Homo sapiens: one gene and its partner. The protein of the gene in region 2 purifies or fractionates together with the protein of the main gene of each other region. This does not show direct contact. Each region holds a gene or a part of one and is shown on either strand. Other genes may lie near its edges.

Region 1 (3,829 bases), on a different chromosome or scaffold from region 2:
TAATGTTGTTACACTGAAAAAATTCACCACATACAAAGACAAATGCTTGCCCCTAGCACATTCACAGCTTCAACTGCTACAGACTGTCACTGAAAAAAATGCATTGGTCAGTCTGAACCATGTCAAGTAAACTATGGAAGTAGCAAATCCACAACACAAACTGTGCTAGCACTTTCTTTTCAAGTCTAACTCCAAAATAGGTACAACTTGGAAGCCACTACCCCAATCTGTGAAAAGTGGTGGAACTTGGCTACTGGACATTTTGAAGATGTGGTTGTACAGTACATTCTCATGGCCCATACCAGGTTCCCGCAGAGAGCTGCACAGTCAGCCCTGCAGCATTCGCAACAGTGCATGGACAAGATTCCGATGCAGCTCAGTACCGATGTGTCTGATGTGAGTACTGTGGAGGCTGCTGGGAGGTAGCTGAGTATCCCATGCTGCTCTGCGGCTGTGATGTGCTTGGTCCAGGGTTGGGATAGGCAGCATGTGGATTGGAACGCTGGAAAGGAGATGAGGGAAAAGTGTGATTCAGGTGCTTCTAGGGGAAGCTCAATCCCAATATGTGACTGAAGTGTCATTATGTTTCAAGGAAGAAAGGATGTATAGGTTTTGTGCTATGTACTAACTTTATAATTAAAGACAAAAACCCCAAATATTTTAACATCCTCTTCTCTTGAGGAAGGTCAGAAATATTGCTAGTAAATAATATTAAGCCTAGGCTTATTACTATGCTGTGCAAATACATTTTTTTCTACAGGAGTAACCCCTTTTTATGCTGTTTTGTATCTACTTGGTAAATTTGCTTGAGATGTTTACCCAGAAACTTAATGATGTATACATAAAAAATTCAAAGCTTATTTACATGCTTTCTTCAGTAGAAAACTCACCCCCACACACATGACTGAAGAGTAAAAGTGAGTATGATAGGAGAAGGTATCACAGAATCCATTTCTTTGGCATTAATACATTTTTATGCCCTTTAAACTATTTTTTTTTTCTTTTGAGACAGGGTGTCACTCTATCATCCAGGCTGGAGTGTAATGGTATAATCATTGCTAGGATTATAGGCATGCACCTCCATGCTCAGCTAATTTTTAAAAATTTTTTTTGAAGGAACAGAGTCTTGCTATGTTGCCCAGGTTGATTTCAAACTCCAGGCCTCAAGTGATCCTTCCCCTCAGCCTTCTAAACCACTGGGATTACGGGCATGAGCCACAGTGCCTGGCCCCTTTAAGCTACTGAATCTTATTTTCTGCTACAAGTTTATATACAAAAGTAAAAATATAACCACAGTAAGAAGGACGGTATTCTCAATTCTAAAATGGCACAAAGAGAAAGAATGTGATGGTTTGGGGTTCTCTAATTTTGATATGTTAGATTATTATTCCCATTCTCACACCTCTCTCTCATACTATTTGCTCCCAAGACAAACACTATAAAAGATTAACCAGAACTTATTACTTCTGTCTTTCAAAGCATATTTAATAAGACATATAATTCCAAATTCTGCCAATCCTAGAAAAGGTAACATTTTTAAAAAGAGTGGACACATGAAATGATAGTCACAAATACTATTTTAAAATTCATCCACAAAAAACCAACAACAATCACACCAACAAAGCAGCATGGCATCATTTTCTCGGTTCCAGAAGCGAAGGTCAGAGCACTGCTCTGCTTCCTTCTAAGGATGCCATCACCTTAGTGTGCAAACACATTTGTGGGCCAAGAGAGATGCACTCTTCCCATCCGGAAAGGAAGAAAAAGATACTGGAACCAACAACTCCCACAGCTGTCTGCCCTTGGTGTCCTTGTTTAGCTAACTGGAAGAGAATTACTACTCACACAACAGTGATTTCCATGGTGTGATGGGCTGGACTTCTCCCCTAACCAAAAGAAAGAGTTAATACCTAATTCTGAAAGTACAGTAACGAGCACTCGGGACCTTATCAGTTTAATAACATCTCTTTCTCTCTCTCTTTTTTTTTGTGTGTAAATAATTCTAATTGGTCAGATTTTCAGTATCCTTCCCACACTGAACCCTTGTGTAGTTGGGAATATGGTTAGAATAAGCAGAAGAGAAAAGGAGGTGGTATACAATTTTCAAAGAGGGTCTTTCCACAACGTAACTGACAATGCCATGATAGGATCCCTAAGCAGGCAACATAACAGCCTTTGTGGTCAGATCAAATATGAGTCCTGCATCTACAGCTTGCTGGGGATCCATGTGAAAGTTATTTAACCTCTACAAGCCTCAGTTTCCTGAAATGGCTGCAACACTTAACCTCCCAGAGTTATCTCATTTAATCCTTACTACAGCTTCACATTGATCATTATCCAGTCTACAAATGGAAACTGAGAACATCTGAATCACTTACTCAAGGATACAGAGAAGTAAGTGGCCAGACTGGGATCTGAAAGCCTATGTTCTTAATCACTGTGAAACATTGTTCCAAAACAATAGCTATCAAGCTCCTACCATAAGCTAGGTGTCAAGCCACTTCATGTCTAATCTGACAACAGCTGCAAGTTAGGTTTTACTAGTTTCATTTTACAGATGAAAAAACGCCAGGAGATATTATCCTACTTGTCCAAGGTCACACAGTTAATAAATGGCATAATTTGTATTTGATCATTCCAAGTCTGGTTCAAAAGTCTAAACCCTTGCTACCATACCACTGTCAGTACTTTTCCATGCCAGTAACATTTCATGTTAATGTATTTCCCTGGGTATACAGACGTCAGTATTTCTCAATTAAATCACATTTTCCCACGATCATAAACCCATATGTAAACACTGACATGCAGTCAATACAAAATAAACTTGGAATACCTGATAGTCTGAGGTCATGATAAGTCCACCTGAGGTAGTGGTAGGAGGAACAACTCTCACTTTCTTCAACGGGGGTCCCTGTGTGTGACTGCTGTCTTGATTCCCTGGGTGGCCAGTTCCATTAGTGTGGTTATTGCCCTGCTGCTGCTGCTGGTTCTTCTCAATTGGTTAAACAGAAAAAGTTCAGCTCAGAGGGAGAACAAAATATACCCACAATGGAAAATGTTATGGAGGCATTCACGAAACAAGAAGCTGCTAACAGTACTTTAATACTTACTTTGTCTCCTTTGTCATCAGGTTCTTCTTCCGTTAAAAATTCTCGTTTTGGGTAAGGGATTTGACAACCGGCAAAAACGCTGATCATAAGAAAAAGAAAAACCATTTCTGGTATACTAATCAATATTCCAAATGCTTCATTTAGGAGATTCTCATTTTAATCTTTTAAGATGAACTTTGTCTCCATATTTGCAAATATAAGCACCTTTCATGTAACTGTGACAAAACGAATCTTTTCTTTGTAACTAGTAATATTACAGCAGGCTACTTGAGGGCTTGAGCTGTATACAAATGATCAATAATCATCGAGTATGATTCAGCTTTCTTCTTTTATCCCAGCATTACTCTTCTATTAATACAGACCAAATATAGATTCTAGCTGAAGTATGTGTCACCATTCAAAGGTAATTTTTGTTTTACCCTTCCTACTACATTTATTAACAAAACAAAAGATGGTATAGGGAACACATTTGGGAATATTTGCAATTTTGGAACATGAAACTGTAACTGCAGACAGTAAGGAGCTACAGCACGCATAACCAACCTGTCACTGAATAGCTGGATCACTACTGAAACTAATGTGATCAGCATTTCATAAAGCAAGAGATGAACAGGAATGCCTCTTAACTGGAAAGCCCCTAAATGACACTTTAATCAGCAAAGCTCATTTTTGCTTGTCATAAAGGATTTCCTTGGGTTCCCATATAAGAGGAGGAGCAA
Region 2 (3,329 bases):
GACGGAGTCTCACTCTGTCGCCCAGGCTGGAGTGCAGTGGTACAATCCCGGCTCACAGCCAAAGTATTTTTTGTTGTTTTTTTTTTGTTTTTTGGGGACGGAGTCTCACTCTGTAGCCCAGGCTGGAGTGCAGTGACATGATCCCGGCTCACTGCAACCTCCACCTCCTGAGTTCAAGCGATTCTCCTGCCTCAGCCTCCCGAGTAGCTGGGATTACAGGCATGCACCACCGCACCCAGCTAATTCTGTATATTTAGTAGAGACGGCGTTTCACCATGTTAGCCAGGCTGATCTCGAACTCCCGACCTCAGGTGATCTGCCCGCTTCAGTCTCCCAAAGTTCTGGGATTACAGGTGTGAGCCGCTGCACCCGGCCCCAAAGTATTCTTTTTTTTAATGCCTTGATGTGAGGTGTCTCTTAGTAATAACCCTATGACCTGAGTGTAAATAAAACTCCATGTTTAATGTTCCTTGCACATTGGCAAAAAGTAATAGTATAAACAAACTAAAAGGTGAAAGCAGTTAGCATAAAACAAGGTTAGATCACTAATAATAAAGACAGATTTGGCTGCTTTCTAAATGTGCCTTGCAAAACAGACCTTAAAATACAAGCAATTCACTGTGACCAGCAGACCAGAGGCTGGAGGCCCATTTCGTCCAAAGAACAGATTCATTCATTCCACATACTCTTACTGAATGATCACCGTGTGCCAGGTATGGTGCTGGTGTTGGGGATAGGCACAAGAATCGCTTGAATCCAGGAGGTGGAGGTTGCGGTGAGCCAAGTTCACACCATTGCGCTCCAGCCTGGGCACAGAGCAAGACTCTGTCTTAAAAAAAAAATAAATTAATAAAAATAAATAATAATAATGAATAATTTTTAAGGGAATGAGTCAGGGAAGTAATCATATGTGTGGAACACACCAGGCAGGGTTTAGGAAAGAGGATGGAAATCTCTTTGTGAGCAAGATGGTATTATATCACAGAGATCACTGAAATGAGAAATTTGACAGGTAACATGGTTTACTGGGACTTGGTGTCATCAGAATACGATGGGGAAAAAAACGAAAGCAAATTATTAAATACAGAAAGGAACCAAATGGAAGTAGGCGGGAGTTGAGAATGTAGGATGTTAAAAAAATGACTTTTTTACTTAGAGATGCATCATGACTAGCAGAGACCTTTAAAGAAGAGAGCTCTTCAGGCAGGTAATACCCAGATGGCCAAGATTCAGGATGTACAGGAACAAACGAAAATCCAAACTTAATGGTTTTCTTGGAGGAAAGATGATTCTAGTTCCTTGCAGTTACTAGGAACTCAGGGGAGAGTTGCCATGAAGTAAATTACACAGAACTAAAATCTGTGTTAGATAACAACAGGGAGATGTCAGTTTGGGACTCTCCTCCAGGGAGCGGAAGGAGTTTAAACTTACTAGAATGAAGGCAATTTTGAAGAGTGAAGGGCACAGATGAGAAAATGGAGAACGGGACCTTTGGAGAACCTAAGAATAAGGAAAAAGAGAAGCGAAGGAAGCCAAGGCACAGCGAAAGTCCAGTTTACCCTGAGGAAGCCACATCCATCACAGGGGAGGTGTTAGGAGGGGAGGTCAGCATTAGCCAAGGGGCACAAAGGGGTGGGAGTCCGAAAACAGTGAGGACTTCAAAGTTTCCTCTTTGGAAAGAGGCCTGGAAGGTGGAATTTCGTAACAAGAGAGGTGGAACAACATGAAGAAGGGAAATACTTGAAACCCGAGGAAGAAGAAAATTATGCAGGCAAACAAACAATATGTAGATAAAATAATCAGATCTCTGAGGAGATAAAGAGTTTTTGTTTTGTTTTGTTTTTTTTTAACTCTAAATTCCTACAAAGAAAAACTGGTCTCACACTGGGAGACAGATGAGTAGAGGAACTGTTTACATATCCTCAAACCCCCTTCACAGCTGTGCTGCCTTCTCTGACTGTCTAGAATGTGACTTCCATAGCCTTCTGTCTTGTGGGTTCTCTCACCTGAACAGGCTCCACTGTGGATTCCATCTTCAATTGTCCACAGTTGTTCTCCTTGTTCCAACTTGAAGAGTGCATCCGGTTTGCTGGCTTGATACCCTGTTCATGGAAAATGATAGAGGACTTAGACATATCAAATTGGGCTGGCAATGTCAAGAAGGAAGAATGTTACATTTCAAGAAACTTGAGTTTCTTAAAATACCCAAAATTTAGTTTCTTATCTGAAACTATGAAAGTTTCGTTTCATATCTGTAACATCAAGGTTTTTCTCTTACAAGAGGGTAGATTACACCGTCTTGTGTGGGAGCAAGAGAAGGATCTGAGAATCTACCACTTCAGAGTACTGCAGGCATTCCAAAGAGGTAGGCATCTGAGAAAGGAAGGCCACTGACTAGGCACCCTCTGAGTGACACAGGGCAGCTGTCCTCACCCACTGCCACCAGGTTGCTGTAGTTCTCCAACATCACATCCCGGTACAGGTCCTTCTGAGCAGCGCCCAGGAGTTGCCACTCCTCCCAAGTGAAGTCCACAGCCACATCCTCCAGTGTTATGGATTCCTGTAATAACAGTCCTGTTTAATAAAGTGATGTCTTTTTGATGATGTGGAAGAAATGCTAAAGTTTTTCTGCTCATTTCCACTCTACAGGCTGTGTGCATATACCAAATAGTTTTTTTTTTAATACAATGTGGAAGAAGTAAAGTCCTAATATAATATTCTGTAACTGTATATTCAGTCATCCTCCATTCACCCAATTGGAAGTTTCTATAAAGTGTAGAAGTTAAATCTTGCTAACCTAAAAACAATATATTTATACATTTTATATATGTAAATATATATGAATATATGTACATATATTTATTTTAGATACATGCAAATGAAAGACATATATACAGCCATCCTTTAGTATCTGTAGGGTATTGGTTCCAGGACCTCCTGAGGATACTGAGGTGTCTGATATAAAATGGCACAGTATTGGTCAGGCACAGTAGATCACACCTGTAATCCCAGCACTTTCGGAGGCCAAGGCAGGAGGGTCACTCGAGCCCAGGAGTTCAAGACCAGCCTGGGCAACATGAGACCCCATCTGTACAAAAAATTAAAAAATTAGCTAGGCACAGTGGTGAGTGCCTGTGGTCCCAGCTACTTGGGAGGCTGAGGCAGGAGGCTCATTTGAGCCTAGGAGTTAGAGACTACACTGAGTTATGACCATGCTACTGCACTGCAGCCTAAGCAACAGAGCAAGACTGTCTCTAATAAAATAAAATAAAATGGAATAGTACTTGCAGATTTGCATGTAACCCATGCACATCCTCCCATATACATTT

What was found.
Region 1: the proteins of ZNF350 (region 2) and CDK8 purify together in Homo sapiens (affinity purification with mass spectrometry; one large-scale study listed by BioGRID and IntAct). This does not show direct contact.

The regions. Positions count from the first base shown.
Region 1 is NC_000013.11:26,400,629-26,404,457, reverse strand, and holds part of CDK8 (cyclin-dependent kinase 8), read right to left. Parts: intron 3,190-3,829; coding exon 3,111-3,189; intron 2,993-3,110; coding exon 2,834-2,992; intron 503-2,833; coding exon 377-502; 3' UTR 1-376.
Region 2 is NC_000019.10:51,966,572-51,969,900, forward strand, and holds part of ZNF350 (zinc finger protein 350), read right to left. Parts: intron 2,561-3,329; coding exon 2,434-2,560; intron 2,103-2,433; coding exon 2,007-2,102; intron 830-2,006; coding exon of another isoform or gene 704-829; exon of another isoform or gene 687-703; intron 669-686; exon of another isoform or gene 599-668; intron 1-598. UniProt on the Homo sapiens protein: Transcriptional repressor. Binds to a specific sequence, 5'-GGGxxxCAGxxxTTT-3', within GADD45 intron 3.